Regions from separate parts of the Homo sapiens genome. Here region 1 is linked to region 2. The links come from fine-mapping of genetic effects on gene expression. A gene starts in region 2. The other region holds a variant in brackets. All regions are shown on one strand. Distances are from middle to middle.

Region 1 (10,959 bases), 90 kb before region 2:
GGGGAGCCATGACCCTGCCCCTTTAAGGACCCTGCTCCGAACTGAAACAGTAACACACATCCATGAGCTAGGACAGGGAAGAGAATGACAAGGACTCTAAACCACCCAGCAGTGAAATTTCCAATGGAAATAAGACCCACTGGGCCCCTCTGTGTTGGGGGTGGAGTGGGGGAGGGCAGCACTCCTGGAGACTCAGATCGGTTTTCAGGTTGTTTGCCCCAGCACTAAGCCGAGAAGTGAGCAAGGAGGGTTTGAAGCTTCAAGTCCACACCCAAGGTCTGCTCAGTGGGAAATCCTTCATCCCTGAACCCACCAGCAATTCCAGACCCAGGGGTGAAGGGAGGTGCAGGTGAGGGTGAGTATAACATGTGGCTTTTCCTGGAGGGCAGGGAACAGGAGTGGGAAGTCAGAGCTTGGGCAACGGGGACCGAGCTGCAGGGCCATGTGACCTAGTGCCCCAGGGGATTTGGCTGTCTTCCTTGGCTCCCGGAGCTCAGAGCAGTGCTGCAGCTCATGCCAGGGCATGTGAAGACAGAGCTAACTGGAGTGCATGGGGTGCCTTTGGGTGGAGGTTGCTGATGGCTGGGACAGATGCACCCTGCCCACTGTCTCCTCTGGGGACAGTGACATCTTTCCCTGCTCTGATAGCTTGAAAGGACCTGCATGGCTGAGCTGCCCAGGGGAGCATTGAGGTGCTTCCTCTGTGTCCTGAGGAGCCAGGTGCTCTCTGCACCCCCAGCTGCTGGAGCCCAGAGGGTGGCAGCCTGGAGCTGGGGCAGCGGTGCCTGGTGCAGTGAGGACTCGGTCTGTGTGGCCTGGTTAGCACAGGACCATGAGGAAGGGGTGAGGACCATCAATAAGAGGCCATCTCCAAGGCCTGCCTTCAGAGGCAAGCTCTTCTCTCCCACACAATTGCTTTGATCCTCGTGGGAAATGTGGTGGACCCTTTTAAGGGGCGGCAGAGAGCACTGGAGGAGAGAGAAAGGGGCCAGCAGGCACATGGGAGATACCTTGACCTCAGGGAACCACTGTTTCAAACCAGAAAGGATCTTTTATACCTTGCTGTCATGCAGCCAAACCAGGCGGACATACGAGCAAGCAGGTGCACCCACGCATCTGTACATGAGCAGTGCGGACAAGTGGCTGCAGGAGGCCCCCGGCCTGTCTCAGGCACTAGCACAGGACTATTCATCACTGGTTCCTGCATTTCTTTCAGGTTTGGCCAAGGCATCCCCAGGGACAAGCACGGATGACAGCAGGTGAGCTGAAATCAACCTGTGCTTACACAGTGAGTCTTGCCAGTGCCTCTGAGGAAAGATGACCTTGGGGAAGTGAGTGGTCATTGGTTTCCTGTGTGCCCGGTCCTTCTGGAGAAAGAGTCTGCAAAACATGCCTAGTCTGTGTGGTCACAGCAGGAAGAGGGCAGAGGTGGGGGCCCTGTCTTAGCAGACAGCACCATGAAACTGGATCTTGAAGAATGAATTTGCCAGAGGGAGGAATGGCTTGCCTGGCAGGGGGGAAGGCAGAGTCAAAGGCCCAGAGGTAGAAGGGCATGACTTTCCAGAATGCAGAGAGCTGGGAAATGAGTTGCAGGGAGGTCAGGCAAACCCCAAGTGAGAAAGACTTTCAAAACCTGCAGGGGCATTTCCCCATATCCCCTAATGTTCAGCCTCTCAGTATTTTTTTTTCTGCCCTGGTGGTGGCTTTCAAACATATCCACCAATTCTTCCACACTCTCCCCATCAAGACACAGAGGCCACGAACCTCACCTTAAACCACAGCCCTTAATGATTACAGCAGGAGAGAGCCGAGTGCCTTCTGAGGCTGCTTATAGAAAGCCACATAGGTCCTGCCAGTTCTCCTGGGATCCTTGTTCTGGGAGCCTTTAACCATCATGCTGGGAGTCTGGCAGCCCTGAGCTGCTGTGTGGGGACGCCTCAGAGAGAGAGACCCAATAGGCCCAGCCTATCCAGCATCCAGTGCCTGGAGTCTTACCAGCCCAGACACTGGGCGCGTGAGTGAGGACACTCGCGTGTGACTGCAGCCTCCATGGACTGGAACCTTAGAGATGCCCCCAGGCAACAGCTGCCTAGCAGCCCAGTCAGCCCCAGATTCCTGAGCAAAATAAACCTCGGCTATTGTTTCAAGCCATTGTTTTGGGATGGCTTTTTAGTGCAGCACTAGGTAAACGGAACAGTCCTTGCCAAACCTACTATTCATCATTTAACTTTTAGAGTTTTTCTATACTTCTACTTAAAAATGGGAATCTGTTAAAATGGGAAACTTCATATCCCTGTGTACGTGGAAATCCAGCATCAATGACCGTAAACGGAAGACAATTCTATAAACACAGAGGAAAAAAATGCATGTGTTTGGTTTCTACACAGATGCTGCTGTCTCTTGGGGCCTGCACCTCGGCAGAGGCTGATTCCAGCTTGCAGTTCTCCGCCACTTGCAGGTGCGGCATTGAAATCATTCCTTGGTATTATCTGTCTTTGTGATTAATGATAGTTTAAGATGGTACACAGCCACAACAAGTAACAGAATTTAATTTCACTAGAAATTTTAAATTGCAGAGGTGAAACAACAGAATGCCCCTTGGTGAAAGAGCAATGTCAAGCAGATGAGTAGTTTTTCCACAGTAAAAGTAACTCAGCAATTAATATTTATTTTTGGTTACAGGCGGGCATGCAGAGCATTTTTTTTTTTTTGAGACAGAGTCTCAGTCACCCAAGCTGGAGTGCAGTGGCGCAATCTCAGCTCACTGCAATCTCTGCCTCCCAGGTTTAAGTGATTCTCCTGCCTCAGCCTCCCATGTAGCTGGGATTACAGGTGTGCGCCATCATGCCCAGCTAATTTTTGTATTTTTGGTAGAGACGGGATTTCACTATGTTGGCCAGCCTGGTCTCAAACCCCTGACCTCAGGTGATCTGCCCGCCTCGGCCTCCCAAAGTGCTGGGGTTACAGGCATGAGCCACCATGCCCGGGCTCAAAGCATTCTTTAAATGAAATGTTTAGTATAGTCAAATACTGATAACCTGCTGGGTGGAGATCAAGGCGCGACTGGACTAAATTCACCAGGTGCTAGTCATTGAGTGTCTGCTGTGAGGCAGATGCCTTGCTAAGGCTGGGCATTAAAAAATGCCCAGTAGGCTGGGTGCAGTGGTTCCCAGCAGTTAGGGAGGCCAAGGTGGGAGGATCACTTGAGCTCAGGAGTTTGAGACTAGCCTCGGCAACATAGTGAGACCTCATCTGTATAAACATTTTAAAAATTAGCTGGGCATGGTGGCATGTGCCTGTAGTCCCAGCTACTCAGGAGGCTGAGGCAGGAGGATTACTTGAGCCCAAGAGGTTGAGGCTGCAGTGAGCCTTGTTTGCACCACTGCACTCTAGCTGGGGCAACATAGTGAGATCCCATCTCCACCAAAAAAAAAAAAAAAAGAGGTCCAGCATTTAGTTCTTAACTCCATTGGTTCAACATGTAAATAATTCTTCTCTGCACTACCTCCTGTCCAGTTCTGCTACCACCCCTTAGTTCAGTTTCTCCTTCCTTCTGTCTTGCAAATGTCATGGGTGATTTCCTGTGGTTAGTGTGGATTCCCTCCACAAATCACAGGGCAACTTTCTAGCATCCCAGTTCTGAGTCAACTGCACAACAGGAAAGGCACCTTCTGGAATTGACTTCTACCCTCCTTTCCAGCCACAATCCTGGCATTTATTGAACCTTGTAATCTATAATTCTGCCATATGAGTCTTCTAAAACAGTGGCCCCCAACCTTTTTGGCACCGGAGACCAGTTTTGTGGAAGACAATTTTTCCACAGACTAGGGGCGGGGTGGGGAGGTGATTTCGGGATGATTCAAGCGCATTACGTTTATTGTGCACTTTATTTCTATTATTATTACATTGTAATATGTAAAGAAATGATTATACAACTCACCAGAATGCAGAGTCAGTAGGAGCCCTGAGCTTGTTTTCCTGCAACTAGAGATGGTCCTATCAAAGGGTGATGGGAGACAGTGACAGATCATCAAGCATTAGGTTATGGTAAGGAACCTGCAACCTAGATCCCTCGCATGCGCAGTTCACAATGGGGTTTGCACTCCTATGAGAATCTAATGCTGCTGATCAGACAGGAGGAGGTGCTCAGGTGGTAATGCCGGTGATGGGGCGTGGCTGTAAATACAGGCGAAGCTTTGCTTACTCACCCACTGCTCACCTTCTGCTCTATGGCCTGGCTCCTAACAGGCCATGGACCAGTACTGCGAAGGGGGTTGGGGACCCCTGTTCCAGAATTTACCCTAATTCTCCATGCCCATTCACTCCTCAATGCCCAGCTGATTTTAATATTGTTCTTCTGATTTTAATGTTGTTCTGTATTGGTCAAGTTTGCAGCAGGAGACAGATGGTCCTCTTGATAGATGGAACCATAGGGCCTCTTTCC[A/G]AAAGTGTGGGCTGTGTTTAGAGAAACTAACAAGGAGAGGAATCACCCTGCGGCTAGCAATAATGGTGAGACACTTAGTATTACTAGCCCTGATGGGGCAACAGAGAAGGACTTTAATGAGAAACAGGTGAGAGAAGGGTTGAAAGAGGGCCCCCTGCAGAGGCTGCTGTATGCGTTGGTGTTGGCACTGGGCGGCCCAGAATAAAACAACCACTCCATATGCTGCACCCAGCTGGGAGCCAGAGGCCCCCAGAATCTGGTTGCAGAGAGAGATGTAAAAGAGTGTAGAGCAGGTCTAAAAGGGTAAATGGGAGCTATCCAGCTTGCCTCTTCAATGGATTTGTTTTTATATTTATTTCAATAGTTTTTGGGGTATAGTTGGGCTTTGGTTACATGGATAAGTTCTTTCGTGGTGATTTCTGAGATTTAGTGCATCCATAAAGCAGTGTATACTGTACCCAGTATATGGTCTTTTATCCTTCACTCTGCTCCCAACTGTCCCCCTCCCAAGTTTCCACAGTCCATTATGACGTTCTTAGGCATTTGCGTCCTCATAATTTAGCTTTCACTTATGAGTGAGAACATATGGTATTTGGTTTTCCATTCCTAAGTTACTTCATTTAGAATAGTGGCCTCCAGCTCCATCCAAGTTGCTGCAAAAGACATTATTTTGTTCCTTTTTATGGCTGAGATGTATTCCATGATGTATATATACCATATTTTCTTGATCCACTTGTTGGTCAATGGGCATTTAGATTGGTTCCATATCTTTGCAATTGTGAATTGTGCTGCTATAAACATGCGTGTGCAAGTGTCTTTTTCATGTAATGACTTCTTTTCCTCTGGGTAGATACCCAGTCGTGGGATTGCTGGATTGAATGGTAGATCTACTTTTAGTTCTTTAAGGAATCTCCACACTGTTTTCTACAGTATGGTTGTACTAATTTACATCCCCACCAGCAATGTGAAAGTGTTCTCTTTTCACTACTTCCACACCATCAATATCTATTGTTTTGTGACTTTTTAATTATGGCCATTCTTGCAGGAGTAAGGTGGTATGTTATTGTAGTTTTAATTTGCATTTCCCTGATGATTAGTGATGTTGAGCATTTTTTTCATGTGTTTGTTGACTGTATATCTTCTTTTGAGAACTGTCTATTCTTCTTCTTTTTTTTTGAGGTGGAGTCTCGCTCTGTTGCCCAAGGCTGGAGTGCAGTGGTGCGATCTCGGCTCACTGCAAGCTCCGCCTTCTGGGTTCACGCCATTCTCCTGCCTCAGCCTCCTGAGTAGCTGGGACTACAGGTGCCCGCCACCATGCCCCGCTAATTTTTTGTATTTTTAGTAGAGACGGGGTTTCACCGTGTTAGCCAGGATGGTCTTGATCTCCTGACCTCGTGATCTGCCCACCTCAGCCTCCTAAAGTGCTGGATTACAGGCGTGAGCCACTGTGCCCGGCCGAGAACTGTCTATTCTTATCCACCGCCCACTTTTTGATGGGATTATTTGTTTTTTTCTTGCTGAGTTGTTTGAGTTCCACAGGTTCATTTCTACTTGCTGAGAAACTCTTAGCACATGCATCATCTCCTTTGGGAATTATTCTCTGACCAGCCGAGGCTGCCACATTTATCTCTTCTGGCTTTTCTCACTTCCTGGATATCCCTGTGGTAGAACTTTCTACTCCATAGCAAAAGGATACCTTTACTTGCCTTCATCATTTTTCATGAAATCTCATTGCTATTCCAATGCTATTGAGCTAGCAGAGAATTTGGAATCACATAGTCTAAGAGTTAAAGCCTCACTCTGCTACTTCAACAACATTTAACATCAGATGCAACATTTAACTTCTGTTTAGAAAAATGTTGATGATGATAATACCTAATTAATTTTTATGGATTAAAAGGCAACTCACTGGCATCTTTCATATTCTTGGCTGCATATCAGCTTTTCATTAGACTTTTAAAAGATAGATTTCTTTTTTTGGTCAGGTGTGGTGGCTCACACCTGTAATCCCAGCATTTTGGGAGGCTGAGGTGGGCAGATCACCTGAGGTCAGGAGTTCAAGACCAGCCTGGCCACTGTGATGAAATCCCGTCTCTGCTAAAAATACAAAAATTAGCTGGGCGCGGTGGCAGGTGCCTGTAATCACAGCTACTCGGGAGGCTGAGGCAGGAGAATTGCTTGAACCCGGGAAGCGGAGGTTGCAGCAAGCCGAGATGCCCCACTGCACTCCAGCCTGGGCAACAGACCAAGCAAGACTCTGTCTCAAAATACACACACACACACACACACACACATAGTTTTTAGAGTAGTTTTAGGTTCACAGCAAAAGTATACAGAAAGTGCAGAGTTCCCACACACCTTTAGCCCCTATCCATGCATAGCCTCCCCATCTATTAACAATCTGCACCAGAATGGTGCTTGTTAAAACCAATGAACCTTCATTAACATGTCATTATTGCCCAAAGTCCAAAATTTACATTAGTATTGTTCATTCTATGGGTTTTGACAAATGTATAATGACATAGATCCGTCATTAATAGAATCATACAGAATAGTTTCACTGCCCTAAAAATCCTCTGTGTGGTACTGGCATGGAGACAGAGATATAGACCAATGAAACACACTGAAAAGCCCAGAAATAAACCCCTTGCCATCTGTATTCTCCTTTGGTGAGGTGTCTTCAGGTCTTTTGCCCATGTTTAAATCAAACTGTTCTTTTACTTATTGTTTTTTAAAGAGTTCTTTGTTTTGCATTACAGTCTTATGTCAGGCATATATTTGGCAGAAATATTTTCTCCCAGTCTATGACTTCTCTTCTCCTTCTCTTGACAGTGCCTTTCACAAAGCAGAAGGTTTTTTGTTGTTGTTGTTGTTGTTGTTGTTGTTGTTGTTGTTGTTTTGAGACGGAGTCTCGCTCTCGCTCTGTTGCCCAGGCTGGAGTGCAATGGCGCAATCTCAGCTCACTGCAATCTCTGTCTCCCGGCTCCAAGCAATTCTCTTACTTCAGCCTCCTGAGTAGCTGGGATTATAGGCGCGCACCACCACACCCAGCTAATTTTTGTATTTTTAGTAGAGACGGGGTTTCATCATATTGGTCAGGCTGGTTTCAAACTCCTGACCTCATGATCCACCTGCCTTGGCCTCCCAAAGTGCTGGGATTAAAGGCGTGAGCCACCGCGCCCGGCTAGAAGTTTTTAAATCTTTTTTTTTTTTTTTTTGATACAGGATTTCATCCAGACTGGAGTGCAGTGGCACAATCACAGCTCACTGCAGCCATGACTTCAGGTGATACTCCCATCCCAGCCTCCTGAGTAGCTGGGACTACAAGTGCATACCACCACACCCGGCTAATTTTTGTATTTTTTGTAGAGACGGGGTTTTGCCATGTTGCCCAGGCTGGTCTCAGACTCCTGGGCTCAAGTGATCCTCCCACCTCAGTCTCCCAAACTGTTGGGATTATAAGCATGAACCACTGCACCAGGCTGAAGTTTTTAATTTTAATGAAGTCCAGCTTATCAATTATTTATTTCATGGATTGTATCTAAAAGGTCATTGCCATACCCAAGGTCATCTAGATTTTCTCTTATGTTGTCTTCTAGGAGTTTCACAGTTTTACATTCAGGTCTATGATCCACTTTGTTTTAATTTTTGCAAAAAGTGTAAGGCGTGTGTCTAGATTCATGTTTTGGCATGTAAATGTCCAGGTGTTTCAGCACCATTTGTTGAAGAGACTATCTTTTTTCCATTGTATTGCCTTTGCTCCTCTGTAAAAAATCAGTTGGCTATATCTATGTGGGCCTATTTCTAAGCTCTCAATTCTGTCCCATTTATCTATTTGTTTCTCCTCTTACCAATACCACACTGCCTTAATTACTGTAGCTTTATAATATGTCTTTTTTTTTTTTTTTTTTTTGAGATGGAGTCTCACTCTGTCACCTAGGCTGGAGTGCAGTGGTGTGATCTTAGCTCACTGCAACCTCCACCTTCCGGGTTCAAGCAATTCTTGTGCCTCAGCCTCCCAAGTTGCTGGGACTGCAGGCACATACCACCACGCCTGTAGTCCCAGGCGTGTATTTTTAGTAGAGACAAGGTTTCACTATGTTGGCCAGGCTCGTCTTGAACTCCTGACTTCAGGTGATCCACCAACCTCGGCTTCCCAAGGTGCTGGGATTACAGGCATGAGCCACTGTGCCAACCTATAGTAAGTCTTAAAGTTGGGTAGTAACAGTGCTCTGACTTTGTTCTCCTTCAATATTGTGTTGGCCGTTCTGGATCTTATGCCTTTAGATATGTAAACTTTAGAATTGGTTTGTCAATATCCACAAAATAACTTGTTAGGATTTTGATTGGGATTATGCTGACTCTATAGTTCAAACTGGGATGAACTGACATCTTGATAATATTGAGTCTTCCTATCCATGAACATAGACTAAGTTATCTCTCCATTTATTTACTTCTTTGATTTCTTTCATTAGGCTTTTGTAGTTTTCCTGGATCTTGTGCATATTTTGTTAGATTTATACCAAAGTATTTCTTTTTTTATTGCTGATGTAAATAGTAATGTGTTTTTAATTTCAAATTCCACTGTTCATTGCTGGTATACAGGAAAGAGATTGGCTTATGTATATTAATCTTTTATCTTGCAACCTTGCTATAATTGCTTAGTAGTTCCAGGAGGATCGTGTGTGTGTGTGTATGTGTGTTTGTGTGTGTGTGAACTCTTTCAGAAAAGACTGGGTGCATTCAGGGTGGTAAGGCCATAGACTTGTCAAATCCTTCAGACTTTCTACAAAGACAGACAATCATGCCCTCCGCAAACAAAGATGGTTCTATTTCTTCCTTCCCAATCTCTATACCTTTTATTTCCTTTTCTTGTCTTATTGCATTAGCTAGGACTGCCAGTATGATGTTGAAAAGGAGTGGTGAAAGGGGATATCAGGGATATCCTTGCCTTGTTCCTGATCTTAGCAGGAAAGCTTCTAGTTTCTCACCATTAAGTATGATGTTAGCTGTAGGTTTTCTTGTAGATCTTTATCAAGTTGAAATCTTGTTCTCTATCAAGTTAAGGAAACTCTCTTCTATTCCTAGTTGGCTGAGAGTTTTTATCGTGAATGAGTATTGGGTTTTGTGAAGTGTTTTTCCTGCATCTATGGATATAATCGTGATTTTTCTTCATTAGTCTGTGGATGTGATGGATTACATTAATTGATTTTTGTATGTTGAGCCAGTCTTGCATACCTGCGATAAAGCCCACTTTGTGGTAGTATATGATTCATTTCATACATTGTTGGATTTTATTTGCTGATATTTTGTTGAAGATTTTTGCACCTATGTTCACAAAAGACATTGGTCTGTAGTTTTCTTGTAATTTATTTGTCTGGTTTTGGTATTAGGATAAATGCTGGCTTCATAGAATGAGTTAGAAATGATTTCCTCTGCTTATATCTTCTGGAAGAGATTGTAGAGAATTAGTATTATTTTTTCCTTAAATGTTGGATGTACAGTTAAACAATAAACCCATTTGGGCCTACTGCTTTCTGTTTTTGAAGGTTATTAATTTTTTATTCGAATTCTTTAATAGATATAGGCCTATTTTGATTGTCTATTTTTACATATGTAGTTTCAGTAGTTGTGTCTTTTAAGAAATTGGTCCATTTCATCTAGGTTATCAAATTTGTGGGCATAGTATTTGTTTCTCATTCTTCTAATGTCCCTAAGATCTGTGGTGATGTCATCTCTTTTATTTCTGATTTGTGTCTTCTCTCTTTTTTTCTCAGTTAGCTGGCCAGATGCCTATTGATTTTATTGATCTTTTCAAAGAACCAGCTTTTGATTTTGTTGATTTTCTCTGTCAATTTCCTTGTTTTCAGTTCATGTATTTCAATTTGAATTGTTTTCAATTTCTTTGATTTCTGTTAAAATTTTTATTATTTATTTTCTTCTGCTTTGGATTTAATTTGCTCTTTTTTATAGTTTTCTAAGGTGGAAGCTTAGATAATTTTAGATCCTTCTTATTTCCTAATACATGCATTTAATACTAGAAATTTCCCTGTAGGCACAGCTTTTGGTGCATACCACACATTTTGGTAAGTTGTATTTTCATTTTAATTTAGTTCAGAAGATTTTAAAATTTCTCCTGATAGTTCTTCTTTGACCCACGTGTCATTTAGAAGTGTATTGTTTAATCTCCAAGTGCTTTGGTATTTTCCAGCTATCTTTCTGTTATTGATTGCTATTTCTATTATTTTAAATTTGCTAACTTTTTTTTATGGGCTAGAATGTAGTCTATCTTGGTGAATATTCCATGTGATCTTGTGTGTATTTACTGTTGTTGGATAAAGTAGTTGATAGATGTCAATTATATCCTGTTGATTGATGGTGCTGTTTAATTCAACTATGTCCTTACAGATTTTCTACCTGCTGGATTTGTCCATTTCTTTCTTTCTTTTCCCCACCCCAGATACATCAGACAAATGATAAATCTCTTCATGATCTGGATCTGTCCATTTCTGATA
Region 2 (10,959 bases):
TCAAGGCCATTTGGCCCCAGCAGACAGATAGATGGGCAGACAGACTCCCAGGAGTTAGACTTGGGAGGCAAGCTGGGGTCTCACTTGGTTTTCATGACCTGGACAATCTAATTTAAAAGTGCTTCTTAAGCCGGTGGGGTGGCTCATGCCTGTAATCCCAGCGCTTTCGGAGGCCAAGGCAGGTGGATCACCTGAGGTCAGGAGTTTGAGACCAGCCTAACCAACATTCAGAAACCCTGTCTCTGCTGAAAATACAAAATTAGCCAGGCGTGGTGGCGGGTGCCTGTAATCCGAGCTACTCAGGAGGCTGAGGCAGGAGAATTGCTTGAACCCGGGGGGCAGAGGTTGTGGTGAGCTGAGATCAGGCCATTGCACTCCAGCCTGGGCAACAAGAGTGAAACTCCATCTCAAAAAAAAAAAACAAAAAAAAAAAAAACAAAAAAACAAACAACAACAATAAAAAAACAAGTGCTTCTTACGTGGTGGATTTTGTATTTGATCACATACAGCTCTTAATGGCTATTTTATTTTTTTGAGATGGAGTCTTGCTATGTTGCCCAGGCTGTAGTGCAGTGGTGCCATCTTGGCTTACTGCAGCCTCTACCTGCTGCTGGGTTCAAGTGATTTTCATGCCTCAGCTTCCCGAGTAGCTGGGACTACGGGCACGTGCCACCACACCTGGCTAATTTCTTTTCTTTTCTTTTTTTTTTTTTTTGAGACGGAGTCTCACTCTTGTCTCCCAGGCTGGAGGGCTGTGACACAGTCTCAGCTCACTGCAACCTCCACCTCCAGGGTTCAGATGATTCTCCTGCCTCAGCCTCCTGAGTTGCTGGGATTACAGGTGCCTGCCACTATGCCTGGCTAATTTTTTGTATTTTTAGTAGAGACAGGGTTTCACTATGTTGGACAGGCTGGTCTCGAACTCCGGACCTCAGGTGATCCACCTGACTCGGCCTTCCAAAGTGCTGGGATTACAGGCACGAACCACCACACCCAGCGCTACTTTGATTTTTAGATCCCACAAAGAAGTGAGAACATGGGATGTTTGTCTTTCAGTGCCTGGCTTATTTCACTTAACATAATCATCTCCAGTTCCATTCATGTCATTGCAAATGACTGGATCTCATTCTTTTTTATGGCTGAATAGTATTCCATTGTGTATATGTACCACATTTTCTTTATCCATTCATCTGCTGATGGACACTTAGGTTGCTTCCAAATCTTGGTTATTGTAAACAGTGCTGCAACAAACAGGAATGCAGATATCTCTTTGATATACTGATTTCCTTTCTTTTGTGTGTATACCCAGCAGTAGAATTCTGGCTCATATGGTAGCTCAATTTTTAGTTTTTTGAGGAATCTCCAAACTGTTCTCCATAGTGGTTGTACTAATTTACATTCCCTCTAACAGTGTACAAGGGTTCCCTTTCTCCACATCCTCACCAGCATTTGTTATTGCCTGTCTTTTGGATATAAGCCATTTTAACTGAGTTGAGATGATATCTTATTGTAGTTTTGATCTGCATTTCTCTGATGATCAGTGATGTTGAGCATCCTTTCATATGCCTGTGTGCCATTTGTATATCTTCTTTTGAGAAATCTATTCAAATCTTTTGCCCAGTTTTTTTGATCAGATTGTTAGATTTTTTTCCTATAGCGTTGAGCTCCTTATATATTCTCATTATTAATCTCTTATCAAATGGGTAGTTTGAAAATATTTTCTCCCTTTCTGTGGGTTGTCTCTTCACTTTGTTGATTTTATCCTTTGCTATGCAGAAGCTTTTTAACTTGATGTAATCCTATTTGTCCATTTTTGCTTTGGTTGCCTGTGTTTGTGGGGTATTTGTGTGGTTGTGGCCTGTGGTTATGGCATTGACCAGACCAAGGTCTTGGGGATTTTGCCCAATGTTTTCTTGTAGTAGTTTCATAGTTTGAAGTCTTAGATTTAAGTCTTTAATCCATTTTGATTTGATTTTTGTATGTGGTGAGAGATAGGGGTCTAGTTTCATTCTTTTGCATATGGATATCCTGTTTTCCCAGCACCTTTTATTGAAGAGACTGTTCTTTTCCCTAGCATATGTTCTTGGTTCCTTTGTCAAAAATGAGTTCACTGTAGGTGTGTGGATTTGTTTCTGGGTTCTCTATTCTGTTCCATGGTCTATGTGTCTGTTTTTATGCCAGTACCATGCTGTTTTGGTTACTATAGCTCTGTGGTATAATTTGAAGTCAGGTAATGTGATTTCTCCAGTTTTGTTATTTTGCTTAGGGTAGCTTTGGCTATTCTGGGTCTTCTGTGGTTTCATATAAATTTTAGAATTGTTTTTTCTATTTCTGTGAAAAATGTCCAGTATTTTGATAGGGACTGCGTTGAATCTGTAGATTGCTTAGGGTAGTGTGGACATTTTAGCAACATTGATTCTTCCAACACATGAACATGGAATGTTTTTCCATTTTTTGGTATTTTCTTCAATTTCCTTCATCAGCGTTTTATAGTTTTTATTATAGAGATCTTTCACTTCTTTGGTTAAGTTAATTCCTAGGTATTTAATTTTATGTGTGGTTATTGTACATGGGATTACTTTTTAAATTTCATTTTCATATTGTTCACTGTTGGCCTATAGAAATGCTACTGACTTTTTTTTTTTTTTTTTTTTTTTTTTAAGACAGGGTCTCTGTTTCCCAGGCTGGAGTGCAATGGCACAATCTCGGTTCACTGCAACTTCTGACTCCTGGGCTCAGATTATCCTCCTACCTCAGCCTCCCAAGTAGCTGGGACTACAGGTATATACCACCATGCCTGGTTAATTTTTGTATTTTTTTTTTTTTTGTAGAGATGGGGTTTTGCCATGTTGCTCAAGCTGGTCTCAAACTCCTAGGGTCCAGCAATCCACCTGCCATGGCCTCCCAAAGTGCTGGGATTACAGGTGTGAGCCACTGTGCCCAGCCTGCTACTGGTTTTTGTATGTTGATTTTGTTTCTTGCAACTTTACTGAATTTGTTTAGTTTATCAGTTCTAATAGTTTTCTTGTGGAATCTTTAGGTTTTTCCAAATATAAGACCATATCATTAGCAAACAGATAATTTAACTTCTTCCTTTCCAATTTGGATGCCCTTTATATCTTTCTCTTGTCTGATTGCTCTAGCTAGGACTTCCAGTTCTATGTTGAATAACAGTGGTGACAGTGGGCATCCTTGCTGTGTTCCAGATATTAGAAGAAGGGCTTTCAGTTTTTCCCCATTCAGTAAGGATACTAGCTGTGGATCTGTCATATATGGCTTTTATTATGTTGAGGTATGTTCCTTCAAAACTCAGTTTTTTTGAGGGTTTTTATCATAAAGGAATGTTGAATTTTATCCAGTGCTTTTTCAGCATCAGTTAAAATGATCATATGATTTTTATCCTTTATTCTGTTAATCTGATGTATTGTGTCAATTGATTTGTGTATGTTGAACTATCCTTGTATCCCAGGCATAAATTCCACTTGGTCATGGTGAATGATCTTTCTAATGTAGTGCTGAATTCGGCTTGCCAGTATTTTTGTTGAAGATTTTTGCATCAATATTCATCAGAGATGAATTTTGACCTGTAGTTTTCTTTTTTTTTGATGTGTCTTTCTCTGGTTTTGGTATCAGGGTAATACTGGCCTATAAAATGAGTTTGCAAGTATCCCTTCCTCCTCTATTTTCTGGAATAGTTTGGGTAGGATTGGTATTAGCTCTTCTTTAAATGTTTGGTAGAATTCAGCAGTGAAGCCATCAGGTTCTGGGCATTTTTTTACTGGGAGACTTTTTATTACAGCCTTGATCTTGTTACTTGTTATTGGTCTGTTCAGGTTTTGAATTTCTTCCTGATTCAATCTTTGTAGGTTGTATGTACCTAGAAGTTTGTTCATTTCTTCTAGACTTTCCAATTTATTGGCATACAGTTGCTCAATGAGTGGATTTTTAAAAGTAAAAGAAGGAGACAGAGAGGGATTGATATAAAGTTATTTGTTATGAATTTTCATTGGTTTACAGAAATAACATTGATAAGTGATTGGCTATATATCCTTTAGCTATAGGGTGTGGTTATAGTGTCTGGCGTGTTGCTATTAGGCTAATTTACAGCTACTTGTGACAATAGCAAGTAATTTCAAGAGATGAAGACATATAGCTCAAAGAGGGGAGTAGGGCATGAGTGCAGTTTCATTTTAATGTCTCCTTGGGCCTGATAATGAAAAAAACTTGCATTTCTCAGATAAAAGTCCTTTTTTTTTTGAGACAGAATTTCGCTCTTGTTGCTCAGGCTGGAGTGCAATGGTGCGATCTCGGCTCACTGCAACCTCGGCCTCCCGGGTTCAAGCAATTCTCCTGCCTCAGCCTCCCCAGTAGCTGGGATTGCAGGCGCCTGCCACTACGCCCAGCTAATTTTATATTTTTAGTAGAGACGGGGTTTCTCCCTGTTGGCCAGGCTGGTCTCAAACTCCCGACCTCAGGTGATCCACCTGCCTCGGCCTCCCAAAGTGCTGGGATTACAGGCGTGAGCCACCGTGCCCCACCAAAAAGCATTATTTTCAAAAGGCCAGGCACGGTGGCTCATGCCTGTAATTCCAGCACTTTGGGAGGCCGAGGTGGGCGGGTCACCTGAGGTCAGGAATTCTAGACCAGCCTGGCCAACATGGTGAAACCCCATCTCTACAAAAATACAAAAATTAGCCGCGCGTGGTGGCAGGCGCCTGTAATCCCAGCTACTGGGGAGGCTGAGGCAGGAGGATCGCTTGAACCCGGGAGGCGCAGGTTGCAGTGAGCCGAGATCACACCACTGCACTCCAGCGTGGGCGACAGTGAGACTCCTCTCAAAAAAAAAAAAAAAAAAAGAAAAGAAAAGAAAATAATGATTTTTAAGGAAATGAATTTTAGAAGTATGACACATATATCACACAAAAGGTATTTTTCAGTTTAGGCTAAGGGATATGAGGAGCCATTGCCATTAAGGATCAGGACGTGTTCACATGGACTCCTGGGAGCAGCCAGGGAGTTGATTACTGATTATTAACTTGTCATATTTTCACGATGTCGGCTATCAGCAAAACATATTTGGCCAATTAGTAAAGTATCTAAAGAGAACCTAAACTCACATACATTTTAGGATATTAAAAAGATAAAATGTAACGGTGAAATTGAGACCTTCGATGTCTGCTGCTTCCAACATCGAAAACACTTTTACATTCCCTTGGTCATATGGCTTTCAAAGCCTGCGTCTGGCTGGGTTCCCAGCTTAGCGTGCTGAGCACTCGGAACCAGCTCCCTTCCATTCCACACCCTCCGGGATCTCCAGTGTGAAAATGTCTGGCCCTGGGTAGGAGGCTGCAGATAGTCCCTGGGCCGGGGCTCGCGCTGGCCGGCTGCAGCGCGCAGGGTGCCAAGCCCTCCCCTACGAAGTCTGTTTTGTCTCAGGCTGGGCTGAGTCACATAGAATAGATAGATAGTTGATTTAGCACATGTCCTCCAGATCATATTATCCGCCTACAAATATAGCCTGTTAGCGCACAGGCACGGGAGGCTTCTTCCGGCTCGGCCGTGCTGCTCAGCGGGTGTAAACAGCCTCTGCGGTGTAAACAGCCTCTGCGGTGTAAACAGCCGCGGCGGGCAGGCCAGGACTGTCAGTGCCCGCCCCTCGGGGCAGGTAAGCGCTGGGCGTCCGAGGTGGCCGGGGGGCGGGAGCGGGGGCCTTGCGCTCCCCGTGGGAGGACGCGGGCGGATGGCCGGTGCCCCGGGCGCTCAGTTGTTTAATCCTTCCTCTGTGCCTTGGTGACCTGCAATCTGCCGGAGCGACAGGGGTAAACGTCCCTAACCGGACAGCGGCTGGGGCTTAGGCATCCACCGTTATCTGAGGTCCAGGACTATGGTGGGAAGGCGAGAAAGGAGAGAGCGTGGGGAGGCAGGGGTCCCCGCGAGTGAATCTTGCTCCGGCTTAGCAGTTCCCCTGCGCGTACTGCTCCGGCGCCCAAGGCTGAGCCCAAAGCTTTCTGGTCCAAAGCGCTGTCCAGGGGAGATAAATCAACTTTGTTTGTGTCCTGAATGGTATGATTGACACATGGCCCTGGCGGGGAAGTCTTTTCTTCCAGCGTCTCACGCCCCCTGGCTTGGGGTGGGGACAGGCCTGAGGCAAGGGCGGAAAGTGACTGGAGACCCAGAGGAGGAGGAATTGTCTGGCTTGTTAGCGGCTCTGCCCTGTTGCTAGCTCTTCTGCTGGACCAAACCCTCTCCCAGAACTCAGGGACTGGGGGGTTCACCCATTATTCACCCAAAGAACCTCTGCTAATCATGCCAGGTGGAGGAAAAACCCTCGGATGCTCACATACCTCTTGTTTTTGTCTTACATTTAATTGGTGACAGGGATTCTTAGTTTCCTTTCTTTTTTCTTTAAATGATTGAACTTTTTTTTGATCTTGCTAGGTGCCAGGTACTGTCTTAAGCTCTTGACACAATGATCCTATGTGATGTTCTCGCCAACCTGTGAGCTCAGTGCTGTTTGCTCCATCACGTCCACATGAGAACATCAGGCTCAGAGAGGTTAGGCTGTGTTCTCAGGGACATGTGGCCAGAGAGTGGGTAGGCAGGGCTCCCGCCCAGGCAGCTTGGCCTTGGAATTGCCCTCTTAATCCCGTCTGGACCCTCTGCCTCCCCTGGCTGGATTTTCTAGCTAAACAAATTACAATAAAATTAATCAGAAGTCCCCAGGGAAACTCTGATCATGTGGCATAAATGTCATTTAATTCAGAATTTGGCTGACTATACTGACCTTACTTGACTATTTAGCTCCTATTTACCCCCGTTTCTATCAGAAAACTCACTGCGTTCATTCCAACGCTGGTGTCCAGGCAGTGGCCTTATGTGAGGATAGAATGGAATTTGTGAGTCACCAAAGCTCCTTGGTTGTCATATTATTGCCCATTGTATCTTGGTGCCCCCAGAAATTCCCATGGGTTACAGTGGTTCTCTTGGATACAGCAAGGCTGATGATAGAGGTTTTCCTTACATTGATGACACGCCTGGAAGGGTGCTGTGGAGGGCTTGGAGCTGGGCAGCCTGGGGTGGAGGGGTCCTGGGAGTTCTGAGGGGCAGGTGTGGAGGAGAGAGCCTCTCTCTGCATGGCTGGTTAAGGTGACCTCTGGCATCAGCTCCGTCCTCCTCTCCTGCTCCATCCCTTGCTCCTGTCCCCCTCCCAGCCTCCCAGTGGGAGTGCCAAGAATGGCTTGGCACCTGCATGATGAGGTGAGTCTCCTCCCAGACTTTGTTGAGTCTCCTCCCAAACTCCCCCAGATCCTTCTTAGGATGCTCTGAGAGGTTAACCCTGCACCCACTCCACACCTCCTACCTAGCAACCCAGTGTAATTTGACAAGAAGGGAGAGGACTAGGTGACCGGAAAACCCCCCCTCCCCCTGGCATATGACTTCTGAGTGGAGACTAGTGCCCTGGTGCCAGGGGACATGTTTTTCCAGTCATGCCCTCTGGCTCTGTAAAGTGGATGGCTCTGTAAAGTGGATGGCTCTGTAAAGTGGTTCTGATATAACTGGGTTGGGGAGGAGGGTGTGGAAAGTTATTCAGCCAAACCTGCCCTGTCAGCCCTTTCCCCTTCCTCAAGGTCCCTGCAGGACTCTCCCAACCCCTCCCCCACCCTTTCTCTTTTGGCTTCTACAGGGGTTGGTTCAGCCTCTGTTGTCTAATGAACGTGCTGTGCTCAAATATATCCTTTGATGCTCTCCCCTCTAGATTGGGAACTTGGAGTCATGGACAAGGCTTCTGTCTTTCTGCATTTAATGAATGTCCATAAATGTCACTTAGGGTTCCTAGGCATTGAAAAACAGAAATACAAACTAAGTACACTGGCTCAGTACACACGGTTTCTGTGTTGAGGTTCAGAAGCAGGAGACTGGCATCTGTAGCCCTTGGACTACTCAAAACCCCCTCATTTGATGGCCATAGCACACCTCTGTCTGCAGGGGCTTGGACAAGGTGATGGAGAGGCCCCACCAGTTCCCATCGTATGCTACAGTATGACCTGCTCAGCTGAACTCATGGGGGCCGGTGTGTGAACCCAAGTCTGGGGACTCCCAAGTGGCTGCTCCTGTCAGTAAACTGTGGCTCGTCTATGGCTTGGTCCATGGACAGACAAAATATAATGAATCAAATACTTTAACTTGCATGAAGTATTGTGATGCAAATAAACAGTAGACTGAGAAATAAAATAACAGGCGGGTTTACTTTAGATGAGGAGGCTGGGAAGGCCAGACAGGAGAAAACATTTAAGGTGGGTTCCAGGGGTGTGGGGAGGAAGCCATGTGACTTGGGGAGGAATGCTCTAGGCTGAGGGAGCAGTGTGTGCTGAGCTCTGAGGGGGAAGAGGCGTGGGGTGGATAAGCACAGAGGAGGGGAGCAGGAGGGGTGAGGTGGGATGGGCAGGCCGAGGGCAGACCATGCCAGGGGCTCACTGCCTCTGTGGAAAGCTGGGATCTCATTCTCATTTCAAAGGCAGGCCTTGGGGAGATTTGTGCCAGGTGGTGGCATGATCTAGTTCTCATTGGAAAGTGACTCTCACTATTGAGTAGAAGATGGGGTTGAGTGGGAAGCCAGGAGACCAATTAGGGGGCCTTTCCCCAACTGAGGCAAGGCGTGACACTAGTTGGTGGTGAGAAATGCATGCCCTCTAAGATGTAGGTGATAACTGGAGGTGTGGATGAATGTGTGTGTGTGTGCATGCATGTGTGTGTGTGCATACTATCTGCATAGTGGGTGGGCAGAGTGAGGAAACGAAGCAAAAGAAGTGACTTCTGGCCGAGTACAGTGGCTCATACCTGTAATCTCAGCACTTTGGGATGCCGAGGCGGGCAGATCACCTGAGGTCAGGAGTTTGAGACTAGCCTGGTCAACATGGTGAAACCCTATCTCTACTAAAAATACAAAAATTAGCCGGATATGGTGGCTTTTGCCTGTAATCCCAGCTACTCAGGAGGCTGAGGAAGAATTGCTTGAACCCAGGAAGTGAAGTTTGCAGTGAGCTGAGATTGTGCCACTGCACTCCAGCCTGGGTGACAGAGTGAGACTTCATCTCAAAAAAAAAAAAAAAGAAGTAACTTCTAGATCTTCTAGATTATGATGGAGTCATTCCTGAGGTGTGGAATTAAAGGAGGCCTAGGATGGACAAACTCTAAAGGAGCAAGTTTGGAGAACATCATGTTTCTTTGAGATATGTGTGAGACATCCAAGTGCATATTCAAGGAGGCAGCTGAACATGCACACCAGATGGCACCAGAAGTTAAGACTGATTTTTAAAGTGTCTTTTATAAAAATCCACTGTCTTGGTTATTTATTGCTGCATAACAGTTTATTCTAGACTGTTAGTTTAGAATAACACACATTTATTATCTCACAGTTTCTGAGAGTCAGAAATCCAGGGCAGTTTAGCTGAGTGTTTCTGGCTTAGGGTCTCATGAAGTTGTGGTCAAGATGTCCACAGGGGCTGCCGTCATCTGAAGGCTTGACTGGGGATGGAGGATCTGCTTTTAAGACAGCCCCCTCTCATGGCTGTTGACAGGAGGCCTCAGTTCCTCTCCTTGTGAAGCTTTTCCACAAGGCTGCTTGAGCATCATCATGACATGGCAGCTGACTTCCTAGAGTGAGTGATCTGACAGAGAGTGAAGACCTAGTCTCAGAAGCCACACACCATTACTTTCACCACATTCTAGTCATTAGAAGTGAGTCACTAAGTCTAGCCCATGCTCAAGGGGGGAGGAATTAAGTTCTACCTTTTTAAAGGGAAGAATGTGAAAGACTTTGTGGATATAGTTTAAAACCATCACATCCACCAAAGCAAAATATTTTACATTTTATTGTCCACTAAAGCTAGGATCAGTAAACTATAACCTGCAGGCCTGGCACCTGTTTACATATGGAATGTGGGCACTGCTGGAGCATCTGGGGACCAAGCTGGGGTATTTTCTTCTGTTTCTACTCCCCCACTGCTCTCAGCTCCTGTCCACCTGGCCAGCTGTACCTTGCTGCAGTCCAGGGCCCACCCTGGTTGCCATCTACACATTGGAGACTCTATTGTTAGCAACCAAGCAATGGAATCTCAGTTCAGGAGCTGGTGACTGAGTAGGTCACCTTGCTTCCAGCCAGCTATCCAACTTGTGATGACGGGAGGAGAGAAGGACACACAGGCACCTGTCTGGGTGATACTGGGGCAGAGAAAGAAATGGACTGCAGCAGGCTCACTCCCCGGCCCCTTCCCCTGCCAACCTCTCCCCTCTCTTTTTGTTTTTTTGAGACCCAGGCTGGAGTGCACTGATGCAATCTCAGCTCACTGCAACATCTGCCTCCCAGGCCCAAGTGATCCTCTCACATCAACCTCCTTAGTAGCTGGGACCACAGATGCATGCCACCACCCAGCTATTTTATTTATTCATTTTATTTTTTATTTTTGGTAAAGACAGGGTTTTGCCATGTTGCCCAGGCTGCTCTCAAACTCCTGAGCTTAAGCAATCCACCCACCTCAGCCTCCCAAAGTGCTGTGATTACAGGTGGGAGCCACTGCACCCAGCCACCCTGCCCCTTTTTCACCATACCTACTAGCCCTTTCCCTCTTGGGCTAGTCCCTCTTGTTCTGAGAATGTTTTTGGCAAGCAGCAGCTGGACATGAAACATGCTAACTACTCCGGATGGTTCTCTGGGGGCAAGCAGGGAGAGGCTCGCCAGAGGGTTCTCCTTTGTTATGTAAACGCCTACATATATCTTCAATTTTGCTTATTGGCCTGGGAAACCTCTATTATTTACCATCAAGTTTTCTCAGCCCTGTACTAAAACAAAAGATTTTCCAGGCATTATTTTCCTTAATCTAACCTTTGAGAGTGTGCTGATGGTTAACATTTTCACTCAGGAGCTGGAACACTAAGTGTCTGGGAGTCCTTGGACTGGAG

The links.
Region 1: its variant is fine-mapped to the expression of LRRC2 in cerebellar hemisphere (GTEx, PIP 0.98).

What each region holds. Positions count from the first base shown.
Region 1 is chr3:46,650,534-46,661,492 of GRCh38, reverse strand. No RefSeq gene overlaps it. Among named protein-coding and RNA genes, the nearest start is that of ALS2CL, 38 kb to the left of the region's middle. RefSeq lists an enhancer at 103-698. The variant A/G (reference allele first, on the strand shown) is at 4,445.
Region 2 is chr3:46,560,883-46,571,841 of GRCh38, reverse strand. It overlaps LRRC2 (leucine rich repeat containing 2), which reads left to right and starts at 5,540. Exons shown (of 9, transcript NM_024512.5): 1 at 5,540-5,665. RefSeq lists enhancers at 5,369-5,663, 5,931-6,841, 6,842-7,752, 8,424-8,925.